Linked DNA regions of Homo sapiens. The protein of the gene in region 4 purifies or fractionates together with the protein of the main gene of each other region. This does not show direct contact. Each region holds a gene or a part of one and is shown on either strand. Other genes may lie near its edges. The genes, in order: KIAA1549, GADL1, SLC25A42 and OR7A5.

The links.
Region 1: the proteins of OR7A5 (region 4) and KIAA1549 purify together in Homo sapiens (affinity purification with mass spectrometry; one large-scale study listed by BioGRID and IntAct). This does not show direct contact.
Region 2: the proteins of OR7A5 (region 4) and GADL1 purify together in Homo sapiens (affinity purification with mass spectrometry; one large-scale study listed by BioGRID and IntAct). This does not show direct contact.
Region 3: the proteins of OR7A5 (region 4) and SLC25A42 purify together in Homo sapiens (affinity purification with mass spectrometry; one large-scale study listed by BioGRID and IntAct). This does not show direct contact.

The regions. Positions count from the first base shown.
Region 1 is NC_000007.14:138,974,838-138,978,407, forward strand, and holds part of KIAA1549 (UPF0606 protein KIAA1549), read right to left. Parts: intron 1-3,570. UniProt on the Homo sapiens protein: May play a role in photoreceptor function.
Region 2 is NC_000003.12:30,860,157-30,863,726, forward strand, and holds part of GADL1 (acidic amino acid decarboxylase GADL1), read right to left. Parts: intron 1,610-3,570; coding exon 1,437-1,609; intron 1-1,436. UniProt on the Homo sapiens protein: May catalyze the decarboxylation of L-aspartate, 3-sulfino-L-alanine (cysteine sulfinic acid), and L-cysteate to beta-alanine, hypotaurine and taurine, respectively. Does not exhibit any decarboxylation activity toward glutamate.
Region 3 is NC_000019.10:19,098,429-19,101,998, reverse strand, and holds part of SLC25A42 (mitochondrial coenzyme A transporter SLC25A42), read right to left. Parts: intron 219-3,570; coding exon 113-218; intron 1-112. UniProt on the Homo sapiens protein: Mitochondrial carrier mediating the transport of coenzyme A (CoA) in mitochondria in exchange for intramitochondrial (deoxy)adenine nucleotides and adenosine 3',5'-diphosphate.
Region 4 is NC_000019.10:14,828,930-14,832,221, reverse strand, and holds part of OR7A5 (olfactory receptor 7A5), read left to right. Parts: intron 1-3,292.

The DNA.
Region 1 (3,570 bases), on a different chromosome or scaffold from region 4:
TTTACACAGACTCAGTCCCAAAAGCAGGTGTCTCTCAAGGTCTCTGGAGATTTACATAGCTCCAGAGTTAGTCCAGGCTGACTTAGCCTTCAATGTTCCAACAATACCTATTCCCAGAAGGCTAGAACAGAAGGCACTTTACCTCTTAGCCCAGTGCTTCCCAAACCTCAATTGTGCATGCAAAATCACCAGGGGGATCTTGTCAAATGCAGATTCTGATTCAGAAGGTCGGGGGTGGGCCCTGAGATTCTGCATTTTCTAACAAGCTACGAGGCAGTGGAGGCAGTGATGATGCGAGCTAAGAGGCAGTGATGATGCTCAGAGTGTGGGGACCACAAGATTAGAATTTCACTAATGAGAAGTAATTGCCTGAAGCTAACAAAGGAGATGGAAAAAAGAAAGAGACAAAGAGAAAGAATAAGAGAAAGCAAAGTATGGGTCTTGAGTGTGTGGATGCAAGAGGGAAGAATAAAGGGAGTTTTTAAAAAGAAGAGCCATCTGCAATGGTGAGAGTGAGCTGCCTTCAGCAGGTCATGGGCCTAGAACATCTACCAGGCAAGGAGAAATGACAAAACAACCTAACAGAAAAAGGACAGATGCTGCTTATAAGTGCATTCCAAGACATCCAAGATGTTGACTTGATATGTAGGAGCTACAGGGAGAAATGAGCTACAAGGAGCTAGAGGGTTAATGAGATTAGCGCTAATCTCATTAACCCTTTCTTACACCGAGGAGGAAACCCAGGACAAGGTAACTTGTCCATAGTCACAAAGTTACAGGCAGATTTGCATTTGCACACACCCAGGTTTTTTAACTCACCTTTTAACAAATCCTGCTGCCTAACAACAAGAAAAAGAAATCACATCATTGTGAGCTCCAGATGAAAGGTGGGTGGTCACAACTTGAAAACAAATTAGATCAGTTAGAACAGTGTCTTCCTATCTGGGAAAATCAACCTAGTGTAATTATAATGACGGTAATTAGCTGCCTCTATCATTCAGGGCACTGATAGAAAACCTGTGGCTCCCACGTCCCTAGTGACTTGTAACAACTCCCTGGCTGGGTTCTGTTTTCAGAATTAAGTGAGGCACTTCCTGACAAGCACTGCAGCAGCTGTTCCCAAACGGGCAGGAGTGAGCATTGAAAATGCAGTCCTCTGCACCCTTTCACTCCCAACCCAAACAAAACCAAGCAAAAACATGTAACAAAAAATGCTTATTTTATTTTACCTTATCTTATTTTATCTTATTTTATTTTGAGATGGAGTCTTGCTCTGTCACCCAGGCTGGAGTGCAGTGGCGCGATCTCATTTCATTGCAACCTCTGCCTCCCGGGTTCAAGCAATTCTCCTGCCTCACCCTCCCAAGTAGCTGGGATTACAGGCACCTGCCACCACACCCGGCTAATTTCTGTATTTTTAGTAGAGACCGGGTTTCACCATGTTGGCCAGGCTGGTCTCCAACTCCTGACCTCAGGTGATCCCAAAGTGTTGGGATTACAGGCGTGAGTCACCGCGCCCGGCCTCAACATAACGATTTTAAATTAGCTGTTCTAACAGTGAAAAGACAACTGCAAGATACCAATGGTATACAGTAGTCCCCCTCCTCCAAGGTTTCGGATACCGGAGGACAACTGCAGTTTGAAGATATTTTGAGATATTCTGAGGTATTTTGAGATACAGCATATTCACGTTTTATTACAGTAGACTGTTAGAACTGTTCTGTTTTGTTATTATTGTTAATCTCTTACTGTGCCTCATTTTTTAATTAAACTTTATTGCAGGTATGTACATATAGGAAAAAACCATGGTATATACAGACTTCAGTACTACCCAAAGTTTCAGGCATCCACTGGGGGTCTTGGACCACATCCCTTGCAGATAAGGAGGGACTACTATATCTTCAAAATACTGTTAATTTTCAGTTACTGGGTTTACCATATCCGGATCAGTGGTTCCAATGCTCAGGGGCTAAAACGGAGCTGTCAACTTGTTAAAATGAAGATTCCCAGGCACTGCCACCAAAGAGTCTAATTTAGAGGCTAAGGGTGAGTCGTAGACATCTAAATTCTTAACAAGCACCCCCACATCCCCAAATGATGTTGATGCAGGAGGCCTAGGGGCCACACTTTTGAAACATTTAAGTATTTGTTTATAATATCCTAAACGACTCACAAAGCATAAATATTCACCTAGAAATGGCCAATAATAAAACAGCACATTAAGAAAAAAATTTCACACACCATAAGCATAAATGCAATAAAAAAATTATTAAAAGAACAAATGGCAGATCTTGCTAATCAAAACAACCAAAAACTTCTACATTTCAAAATTATGTAAAATTTAAAAGAAATTCCTTTGGAAGGGGAAAACGCAACATATAGAAGGAAAAATGGTTGCTATCCTTCTAATACATAAAGATTTAAATACATATCTATGCCACAACAGGTAAATAAATAAAAATACAGAGAAAATTCACAGAATACAAATACAAAATAAAAAATATTCAATTCTAAAGCAATAAAACCGTGCAGGTTAAAACAATGTATTACAAATTTATTTAACAAGGGCTTTTAAAGTAACATTCAATGCCAGTGATGAAGTGAATACTCAATGCAAGTGATAATGGAAGGCCCCTGCGTAAGCTTCAAGGGCTTATGTCAGCATTATAACTTTCAAAAATTGCTTCATTCAAAAATCACATACTGAGTACCTACTAGGGGCCCAGCATTTTGAACAAAAGATGCAGAAATCCAGCCTGGTGGGCCTTACATTTTAATCACACTCTAATACCCCTTCCACAAATGTATACTCAAGAAAACACACACACACACACACACACACACACACGGAAAGAAACATGCACAAAGCCTTTTTTTTTTGAGACGGAGTCTTGCTCTGTCGTCCAGGCTGGAGTACAATGGCGCCATCTCGGCTCACTGCAACCTCTGCCTCCCTGGTTCGAGCAATTCTCCTGCCTCAGCCTCCCAAGTAGCTGGGATTACAGGCACATGCCACCACACCCAGCTAATCTCTGTATTTTTAGTAGAGACGGGGTTTCACCATGTTGGCCAGGATGGTCTCAAACTCCTGACCTCAGGTGATCCGCCCACCTCGGCTTCCCAAAGTGCTGGGATTACAGGCGTGAGCCAGCGCGCATGGCCAGCAGAGCCTTCTCTATGTAGCTATTCATCAGCATTACTTACAGCAACCCAAAAAATGGAAATAAAAGAATAAATCATTAGGATAGAAAATAGTTTTCAAATAAGACTTAATGAATGGAAAAATGCTTAAGTTAAATGTAGAGTGGAAATGGTAGTAAATACAATTGTGCATATAATTCTTTTTTTAATGTTAACAACAAAAAAACGATAAAATTACTTAGTGTTACCTACAGGCTGTGAGATTATGGGTGACTGGTTTCTGTACCTTTCAGTAATTTCCAAATTCCCTACAAAGCAATCTATTTCATAATAACTATTACTTTTTAAAAACTTATCTCTGAATAAGGTGAAGAAACTGGGCATGATTCTTTGTTTTTATACTGTGGATGGCTAATCACTTAAGAGCAA
Region 2 (3,570 bases), on a different chromosome or scaffold from region 4:
ATCTGAGCTCAAAGTACTCGCTCCTGAGTGAAATCCCAAAAATCTGTTCCAGTCTCAAAGCATTTATCACATCCTTACTGGGACCCCCCGCTGCCTTTTCTAATGAAAACATATCCTTCCAATTAGATTATAAATTCTGTTCAGAGCTGGGCCTTTATATTGTTTTTCTTTATATTCTCTAGGGCTGAATATAAAGCTTTAGTCATAGCTAATACTCAGTTAATATTTAATGACTGAATAAAGGCCAATAAAAAAAACTGCCAGAGGAGCAGTGTACTCCAATGTAAAGCAGATCCAAAGTATTTCACAAGTACAGAGAAGAACAGAAATTATATAATTATAAATATGCTATCTGGGCAAATACCAAACACCATCAGGATTTTGCCTTGAACATAACTTCCAAATTCATGCATCAATCTATTTTCCTACTAGTTTTCCGAAAGGCATGTGATCAAAAATTCAGAATAAATATCACCTCACTTTCAAAATCTTTTAAAAATGATACTTATTTCTAACTAATATAACTGGAATAAAAATCTCTTCCTTACATCCATTTGTTGATAATCCACCTCCAACATGAAAACCAATGTGATAAAGGTTGATTCGGTAATTTTAAGAGGCATATGGAATAGTTAAGAGTGCAGATTGTGAAGTGATACTGCCTGGATTTTAGTCCCGGCTCTGATACTTGTGTATAATCTTGGGCAACATATTTGACCTCTTTGTGCCTGACTTTCTTTCCCAGCTCTAAAATGGGGGTAATAGTATCTGCCTTTTAGTGCTTTTGAAAGGATTAAATGCATAAGGAGTAGTCCTTAGAACATAGTAAGTATTCTTAAGAGTAGATGTCATTAGCGGCGGTTCTAATATCAATTTGAATTGAATTTGAGCCTGAATTTGAAATCTACAACCAATAATTGGTACCAGAAAGGAGTCAGACTTAACCACCTAAGATTTCTAGGCTAAATTTAGACAAGCTCTTCATAAGGACCTTAAGATAAATTTAAAATGTTTTTACATCCTTTTCCATCTTTTGCTTGATTTTCATGAACAACATGAAGAGTGTGCACTAGAAAATGGGGAGCAAAGAGCATTAGAGAGTTGCGTAAGTGAGATTAGCAGGTTACTTATCTATGTTATTATCTAGGGTGCAGGAAGTTTCATCCCTGTGCTTCATGTCCTTATGTGATTAAGCTCTAGGGTCTCAGCCAATCTTCCCACGAATGATGACTGGCAGAGTAAGGAGGCAACCCTTCAAGGACAGCAGGAATTGCCTGAAGGACAGCCTACACTTTTATATCTGGACATCCTTTTGAGACAAAGGCATAGAAGAAATAAAAACTTGGCCTTCCCATTTGCTTTCTATTCAGCCATACTGATTTGGGGAACATCTATCTTTCCCATTTCTGCAATTTCTTACAGGTTTTAATTTTTACCTTCTCATTGACATCTGTAGCTTTCAAAACCACCTCTTCCATTATTAGCCTACAGGCCTCTTCAACAAATTTTTCTCCAGCTTTTGCATCTGTTGTAGGACCATTCAGCACAACCCCATCCACAAGAACAGCATTCTTCTTACTTGGAATCATCTCTTGTTGATCAATATCTCCTGGAAGCAAGCAAACAAATTGTGTTTGAGAGATAATCTAATTACACCACATAACAAAGCACGGGACAAAATGCATCACTATCCCAGCTTCAGATGGCACATCTTTTAATACATGAAGGCATCATTTGAGGTGTTGAGCTGACAATTTCTTATGACACACCATGGTATGATAGTTAAGGAAAATTTTACAAAGAAAGCTCACAATTTATGGATTAAGTAAATCTACCTTATTATATATGTCACTCTGTACTGGGCTGAGTTAGTCATGGAGTATATGACCTCCTAATTCAGTGCAATTTCAGGTCTGATGGGGAAAGGTACCATTCACATACAATTCCCATGCTAGATGGTGTTTGAAGTTGAAAAAAAATGTTTTCCATAATTAGAATGCTGATTCACAAAGCAACTGCCCCTAGGAGAGAGTAAATATTCATTGGCATTTCTACACATGCACAAATGATTAAGTGATTTCCCTAATCCTTTCCTCAGAGACAGCCGTCACTCTACCACAGGAGAGTTCGAGATGGAGGAACAGGAGTTAGGCATTTGGAGAAAAGGATGAGGAGAAAGCCCTTCAGATTTTATCTAGAATTAACACCACCTCTATGCTGTCAGTATCCCCTTAAAATATAAATAATACAATATCATACAATAGTGGTTTTAACTTTCAGAATCTGGTGCATTGAGTAGACAAATCCTATAATTAAGGTAGCAAGCTTTTAGCTTCATTTCCTTGTACAAAGTCCTTTAGCATTTCTGAGCCCTAGGATGAAGCTTTGGGCAGAGATAAAGAAAATAGCACCTGTCCTTACACAATTTATTTTCCTCAAGGAAGAGATAATGCATTTCCAGATTGAAATAACAAATTGAATTTTATGAAGATCCATCTTGTATTGGATGTATCTGAATTATCGAAGTATCTAAGAGGGATCACCTGGTCACCTTCAACAAAGTGAATATTGAAATCTTCAAAGGCAAAGAGCTAGCTGCTTCCTTCTTGAACTAGCACACATGAATATGTTTCTCCAAATGTATGTCCCCTCTTCCTTTAGGTGCGTGTAGCTGTTGGCCAATTTCTCTATGAACTAGATTACAAAGTTTACACAAAAGTTGTATTTTTCATTCTTGCAGCATCTTGTTTAGCATCAGGGAGTGTGGAGGAGACCAAGAAATGTAAATGTAACCTATTTTACTCATTCTTGCAGTCACCTTTCAAACACATGTACAAAGAGATCTTCGTAAACATAAGCCCATGTCTGTTTCACACACACACACACACACACACACACTCTCTCTCACACTCACACACTCACTCTCTCTCTCTCTCGTAATTTGTCAGGGATACCATATTTTCCCTTTTAACAAATCATTCCTTAAAAAGCAGCAGCGATATAAACTTGTCACTAATCTTAATTGTATGTTTTAATTCTATGTTTAAATGTTCCTCTATATTACAGATACTGCTTTGTCCCTGAGAGCCCCTAATTTTTCAGCCATTTTCTACATAGAGAGTGATAGAGGAAAGAAAGCAGCACAATGATTTGTTAAGCCTGTATTAAATGCCTTTAAACTTTTCAACCTTGCAGCTTAAGCACAGGCAAAAGGATGAGACGGAACATGTTCAAGACTGTACATGCCGATCATTGACTAAATGTTAAAAGTCAACATGAAAATCTATATCTGAGAAGAAAGGTTACTGCCTACCCAAAATAGCCCTCCACAAAAATAATTCTGGCAACTCAATCCAGATATTCAACCAATTTCCAGCACAAGCTTTGATTCAATCACATTCTCTTTTTCTAATCAGTATGTTTCTCCACCTTATAATGTATATGTTCATTTAATTGTTGAAATTGACAGAAACAATTTTTAAAGTACTTTTCAGCACTGTACCTCACACAGTATCTTCTATTTTAAATCCATCTTAAATATTCCAATGGTCTACAAAAAAAAACCCTTCT
Region 3 (3,570 bases), 4.3 Mb from region 4:
TTCTAAAATAAATCTAAAAATAAAAGCCAATTTGAAGCGTGGTTTGGGGGCCATGAAGGAGGAGGTGACCGCCTGGCAGCTTCTCTAGCACCTGGGGATGGCCAACACTTACCTTGGAAGATGATTTTGGTTCGGTCCAGGGGAGCTACCGCTGTTTTGGCAAGGGCACCAGCCAGGGCCCCAGACAGCAGGGAGCTGAGCACTTGCCTGTGGTCACGCTGCAACAGAACATGTGATCAGAGGTCAGAGGGCAGGGGGGCGGCTCCGCAGAGGACCTTGCCCCAGAAGTGCCTTCCTTACACCCTCTGGGCCGGGGCCGAGGGATGTACCCCACCCTGAGTATGTTGGCCTTGCTTGGTTCTGGGTGATCTGTGGTGGGTCCACAGGCCACAGAGCCTACTGGGGACACAGTGAAAACCTCCCAAGATGACAGGTACCATCCACTTTGGAGGTGAGGTGTGCAGGTTTCACATTCTCAGAGACAGGCTCACAATAGGACTGGCCCACGTGCAAACTTCAGTTCCCTCCACAGCCTGTGTGCACCTGACTACGGCACTGTGGCATTGTAGGTACACAGGGACTGAAAACAGGCACCAGGGACCGTTGGGGTCAGGGGGTTGGCAGTGGGTATCAGGCAAGCAGACCCTGACTCTGTGTCAGCGTGTCCCTTCCCACAACTTCCGATCAGGACTCCAGAGGTAGGCATCTATGACTCTTCATCCAGCCCAGTTGAGGGGGTGACAGTGACACTGATGATGGCTGCCAACCTGCGTTGACTGCTCCCATGCCAGCCTGAGAGCCATCGCTTTCTGCAGTCCTCTGGAGCTGCCCAAGTCCCCTGCTCCCCCACAGCCCTCCCTCCTTCCCTGGAAGGTCACGCCGCACAGCAGTGTGTCCGAGCCCTGTGGGATCCCACAGGCACCACCTGCCCATCAGGTTGGAGTTTCCATTTCCCCTGCTGACTCGGCCACGGGACTCTCACTGAGAAGTGGCAGAGAGCATTCTGGAAAGTTCTGGATGGGAGGTGCTCTGATTCCATTTCCCCAGTGGACTCGGCCATGGGACTCATTGAGAAGCAGGGGAGAGCATTCTTCTGCCTCAGCCTGCAATGCTTTGCTGTCTGAATGTAACGTGGAAGGGCAGGTTGTTCAGTGACTCCCAGGAATCTGCGAAGTCCCACCAGGCAAGGGCATCCTGAAGGGCCTGGAGCCCCACAGTGCAGGGTGGGGGTGTGTACAAGACCCTTCCTGTCCCCGTGGTGCCACTGGTCCACACAGAGAGCCAGATGCCAACAGAAGCATCAGATGAAAGCAAATACAGCCACCCATTGGGAAGGTGCCGCGAGGAGGTGGCCCAGGGTTCTGTAAGAACTCTGGGTTGGTAGGTGAGAGGCTGAGCTTGAAGGATGAGGTGCAGGTCACTTTGGGGTGTGTGTCATAGTATTAGGTGGGGAGGAATGAATACTCAGAGGCTAGGGTGAAAAGGAGCAGGGGACCCTGGGGGACCACAAGGAGGGCAGATTTGCTGGCACAGGGAAAGGGAGGGGGCCCAGAGAAGAGAAAGGAGATGGCAAAGAGAGGTGGGTGCTAGATCCTACAAAGCCTGGCAAGGAGGCTGATCTTTGCCCAAATAAATGGGTTATTTTTATTTTTTTTCTGAGGCACAGTCTTGCTCTGTCGCCCAGGCTGGAACACAGTGGTGTGATCTCAGCTCACTGCAAACTTTGCCTCTCGGGTTCAAGCGATTCTCCTCCCTCAGCCTCCTGAGTAGCTGGAATTACAGGCAAGCACCACCACGCCTGGCTAATTTTTGTATTTTTAGTAGAAATGAGGTTTCGCCATGTTGGCCAGGCTGGTCTCGAATTCCTGGCCTCAAGTGATCTGCCTGCCTCGGCCTTCTGAAGTGCTGGGATTACAAGCATGAGACACCGCGCCCGGCCGAAATGGGCTATTTTTAATATGACCAGAGTGGGGCTGGGCACTGTGTCTCATGCCTATAATCTCAGCACTTTGGGAGGCCGAGGCGGGCAGATCACGTGAGGTCAGGAGTTCGAGACCAGCGTGCCCAACATGGTGAAACCCCATCTCTACTAAAAATACGAAAATTAGCCGGGCATGGTGGTGGGTGCCTGTAATCCTAGTTACTCAGAAAACTGAGGCAGAAGAATCGCTTGAACCCAGGATACCAAGGTTGCAGTGAGCCGTGATTGCACCACTATTCTCCAGACAGGGTGACAGAGTGTCTGAAAAAATAAAAAATAAAAATAAAAATGTGACCAGGGTAGAAGCGGCTCCTGCAGAAACCCAGGATAGATATGGTGGAGGCTGGAGATGGGGAAGGGATGTGGCGCACTACTCAGGTGTAACAGGCAACCGGAGTCAGACTGAGCATGGTTGCCCCCACCTCTGGAGTTTGCTCAGCTCAGTGTGTGGCTCGGGGTAAAGGGCTGGGCCTGAGTCTGTCCACACACTTGGCCTGAATCCCAGCTCTGCCCGACTGAGCTCAGGCAGAGGGTGCCCTCTTTGGTCTCCCAGTCCTATCTTTACAACAGCAAGGTGCCAGCTCTCAGACCCTCTCCCACATGTCCTGGGCTACCCAGCAGCCTTGCACCCCCAGTCTGGTTCCACAGAACACAGCCTCCTTTTCCTCAGTGCTCCCAGGGTCCCCTCCACCAGCCCAGCCCTCCCTTCCTCAAAGGGACAGATTGCACAGCGATTTTGTTTCTGAGGCCAAACTTCGCCATGGAGTTTGATCTTCTCCTAGCTTCTCGGAAGCTGTCTTTGGGGACCTCTGCCTTTTCTGGGACATGCAGCCAGGTTGCAGACGTCTGGTTCCATGAGCTTTGAGAATTGCGGGCGCTTGTTGGTGGTCCCAGCAGCAGTCCAAGGCCTTACCAGCTTCAGGCCAGTTTCTTCTCTGAATCAGTCGGACCAGCTGCTCCCCTCTGGAATGGGCCTCTGTGTGCAAATGGAATATTCCATGGAGAGTGCCTCCCTGCACCCTGCTGGAGACAGAGTTCTTCCACCTCCTCCATTCGGTGGTTACCTCCTATCAGTTTGTCGTTTTGTTTGTTTTTTGAGACAGTCTTGCTCTGTCCACCAGGCTGGAGTGCGGTGGCGCAATTTTGGCTCACTGCAACCTCTGCCTCCTGGGTTCAAGTGGTTGTTTGTCCTGCCTCAGCCTTCCCAGTACCTGGGATTACAGCTGCGCGCCACCCTGCCTGGCTAATTTTTGTATTTTTAGCAGAGATGGGGTTTCTCCACGTTGCCCAGGCTGGTCTCGAACCCCTGAGGCTCAGGTGATCCGCCTGTCTCGGCATCCCAAAGTGTTGGGATTACAGGCGAGAGCCAGCGGGCCCAGCCAAGGCTCTTAACGTTACAAAGCCAACTCTGTGTTGTTTTTCTGAGATAGGATCCCACTCTGCCACCAGGCTGGAGTGCAAGTGCATGATCATAGCTCACTGCAGCCATGACCTCTTGGGCTCAGGTGATCCTCCCACCTCAGCCTCCTCAGTAGCTGAGACCACAGATGTGTGCCACCACACCCAGCTAATTTTATTTTTTTGCAAAG
Region 4 (3,292 bases):
ATAGAATTGTCAGGCCAAGCGAGGTGACTCATGCCTATAATTCCAGCACTTTGGGAGGCCCAGCTGGGAGGATCACATGAAGCCAAGAGTTTGAGACCAGCCTGGGCAACAAAACAAGACCCTGTCTCTACAAAGCATGAACAAAATTAGCTAGGTATGGTGACACATGCCTTTCGTCCCAGTCATTCAAGAAGCTGAGGCATGAGTATTATATAAGCCCAGAAATTTGAGGCTGCAGTGAGCTATGATTGCACCACTGCACTCCATCTTTAGCAAGAGAGTAAGACCCTATCTCAACAATGAATAAATAGAATACAACAGAATAGAATAGAATAGTCATGACGTGTGCAAAATTTAATATGTAATATGGTCTGGGCAGGCATTTTCATGTTGGACAAAGACCAGAAACAAGCTCATTGGATTTGTCAAAAAAGTGATCAAAATTCAAAGTCCACAAGTAGCAAAAAAAAAATAAAATAGGCCAGGCGCGGTGGCTCACGCCTGTAATCCCAGCACTTTGGGAGGCCGAGGCAGGCGGATCACGAGGTCAGGAGATCGAGACCATCCTGGCTAACATGGTGAAACCCCATCTCTACTAAAAATACAAAAATTAGCCGGGCACAGTGGCGGGCACCTGTAATGCCAGCTACTCAGGAGGCTGAGGCAGGAGAATGGCGTGAACCCGGGAGGCTGAGCTTGCAGTGAGCCAATATTGCACCATTGCACTCCAACCTGGGCGACAGAGCGAGACTCTGTCTCAAAAAAATAATAATAAAATAATAAAATAAAATAAAGGCCACACAGGAAATACAAGAAAAGTGAGAAAGGGACTGCTTCATCCACTCTCAATTCATATAAAAACCAATTGATCAAGTAAATATGGAATAGGCACAGAAAAAAATGAGTCTTTTACTGTTTCATATAAAAATGCCCAAATCTTGTCATTGTTTGTATGTTTCTTTTTGTGAATTGTTGGCTTATTCTCTTTGCTCCATTTTTCTATTAGGATATGCGATCTGTACCTTTGTTGCCAAAAAAGGTATCATTAGTTTTTGTCATGGGTAGCAGCTATCTGGGGCCGGCATCATGTAGGCAGTAAGAATTTACCAAGACAGTTGTAGATAAAGAAAGGCAAATTTAATTAGAGAAAGGATAATAATACATTGCAAGGGTGCAATGGGCAGGTTAGCAAGAAAGGAGCTGACTGCAAGGAGGCAAAGGCTTGCTGGGGATTTTATAGGATAGTGCTTGTGCTGCGAGCTGAAGAGGGCTTTGTGCGGTACTGATAATGCCAAGGTTGCAGTGAGCTAACTTGCATTTTTCCATCAGCTGAGGGTCAGGTGATAAGACGGGTGCAGGAAGATTGTGAGTCATTGGCACACGAGGGTTGTGTGTCCTGGACCATGAAGAAAGGCAGACTTAGAGCTTATCTATCTTCTCTTTTTGTTTTTCCCTGCTTCAGCCAGCCTGACTCCATTTCCCTAATTAGGACTCCACAGTCTTGTCTTTTGGATAACTTTATTTACTTATTTCTAGTTCCAAAAGGAAAGCTAAAACTTTAATAATCATTAAAACCGACATAATTAAATACTATTGTTAAATTAAAAACCATGAAGTCAATAAAGATGTCAGAATTCTTTATTTTTGATCTTTTATTTATTTTGCCAGGCATCGAGGAGATACAATGGAAGCTGAAATGTAACCATAACCAGGGTCGCTTTTATTTTCCATCCTATAAGATCCCCAGCAAGCCTTTGTCTCCTTGGAGTCAGTTCCTTTCTTGCTAACCTACCCGTTGCACCCTTGCAATGTATTTTTGTCCTTTTGCTGAGGGATTACCTGAGTTTATTAGACTTTTTCCTTACTGGGGTCTGTTTAATTTCTCTCACTCTGTTTATTGAACAGCTCTTTTATGTTTCTTTAAACACAGGGCTGAAAACAGTCATACCAAAATGGAAGTCCAAGTTTACATGTGTATACAGACTTGTGAACTGGAATTTCTTGTACCAATTCTACATTCTGTAGGGAAAAAAGAATCTGATATTAAAAGCTTTCCTTGAGCCAAATGCAGTAGCTCATGCCTGTAATTCCAGCACTTTGGGAGGCCAAAGTGGAAGGTTCACTTGAGGCCAGGAGTTCAAGACCAGCCTGGGCAACATAGGCAGACCTGGTCTCCACAAAAAATGTAGAAATCAGCCAAGGGTGGCGGCACATGGCTGTGGTCCCAACTACTTGGGAGGCTGAGGCAGGAGGATGGCTTGAGCCTGGGTGGTTGAAGCTGCAGTGAGCTATGATCACACCACTGCACTCCTGCCTGGGCCCTCTTCGGCCAGTGTGCTGCATGTGTATATGTGTGTGTGAGTGAGTGTGTGGCTGCATGTCTTTGGAGTGACAGCAGGTTTCAGAGCAAGAGGGACCTGGCCTCAATATATTTTATTATAAAGGAGACCAATGAAACAGAGGCCAGAACCCAAGACACCAGAAGGAAATAAAGAGGGGATGCATTTCAATTGATGTGACACCTTTCTAGTCCAGTTAATAAAGTGCAGGTGCAACAGCATCTAGACAGATGGACACTTTGTCCCTTGATGTTTTGACAGCCAGGTCCCCTTATTCTGCAACATCCTCTGACACCATGTCCCATCACTCTCCGTCTTACTGATTCCCTGGCCACACTGGCTTCTGTGTTGGACTTGAACATCTGAAAGAAGCACGTCCCAACCAGGTGCAGTGGCTCATGCCTATAATCCCAGCACTTTGGGAGGCCGAGGTGAGCGGATCACCTGAGGTTGGGAGTTCAAGACCAGCCTGACCAACATGGAGAAACCCCGTCTCTACTAAAAATACAAAATTAGCTGGGCGTGGTGGTGCATGCCTGTAATCCCAGCTACTCGGGAGGCTGAGGCAGGAGAATCGCTTGAACCTGGGAGGTGGAGGTTGCAGTGATCTGAGATTGCGCCACTGCGCTCCAGCCCGGCAACAGAGCGAGACTCTGTCTCAAAAAAGAAAACAAGAAAGAAGCACATCCCTCAAAGTTTTTGTACTGCCATTCCTCCTGCCAGGCACCCACTTCAACAGATAACTTCATGAATCTTGCCCTGTCTTCCTTGAGATCTTTTTTCAAACATCACCTTGTTTGCAGGTCTTGAATAATAATCAGCAAACAAACAAACAAAAAACAAAAGAAACACTTCATACCCTCCCTCCTTTTTACCTGCTTTGTTTATTTTCCAAGCGCCTGTTCCCATCTGACATATTATGTGATTGTTTAATTTGTTTATATTCGATTGTT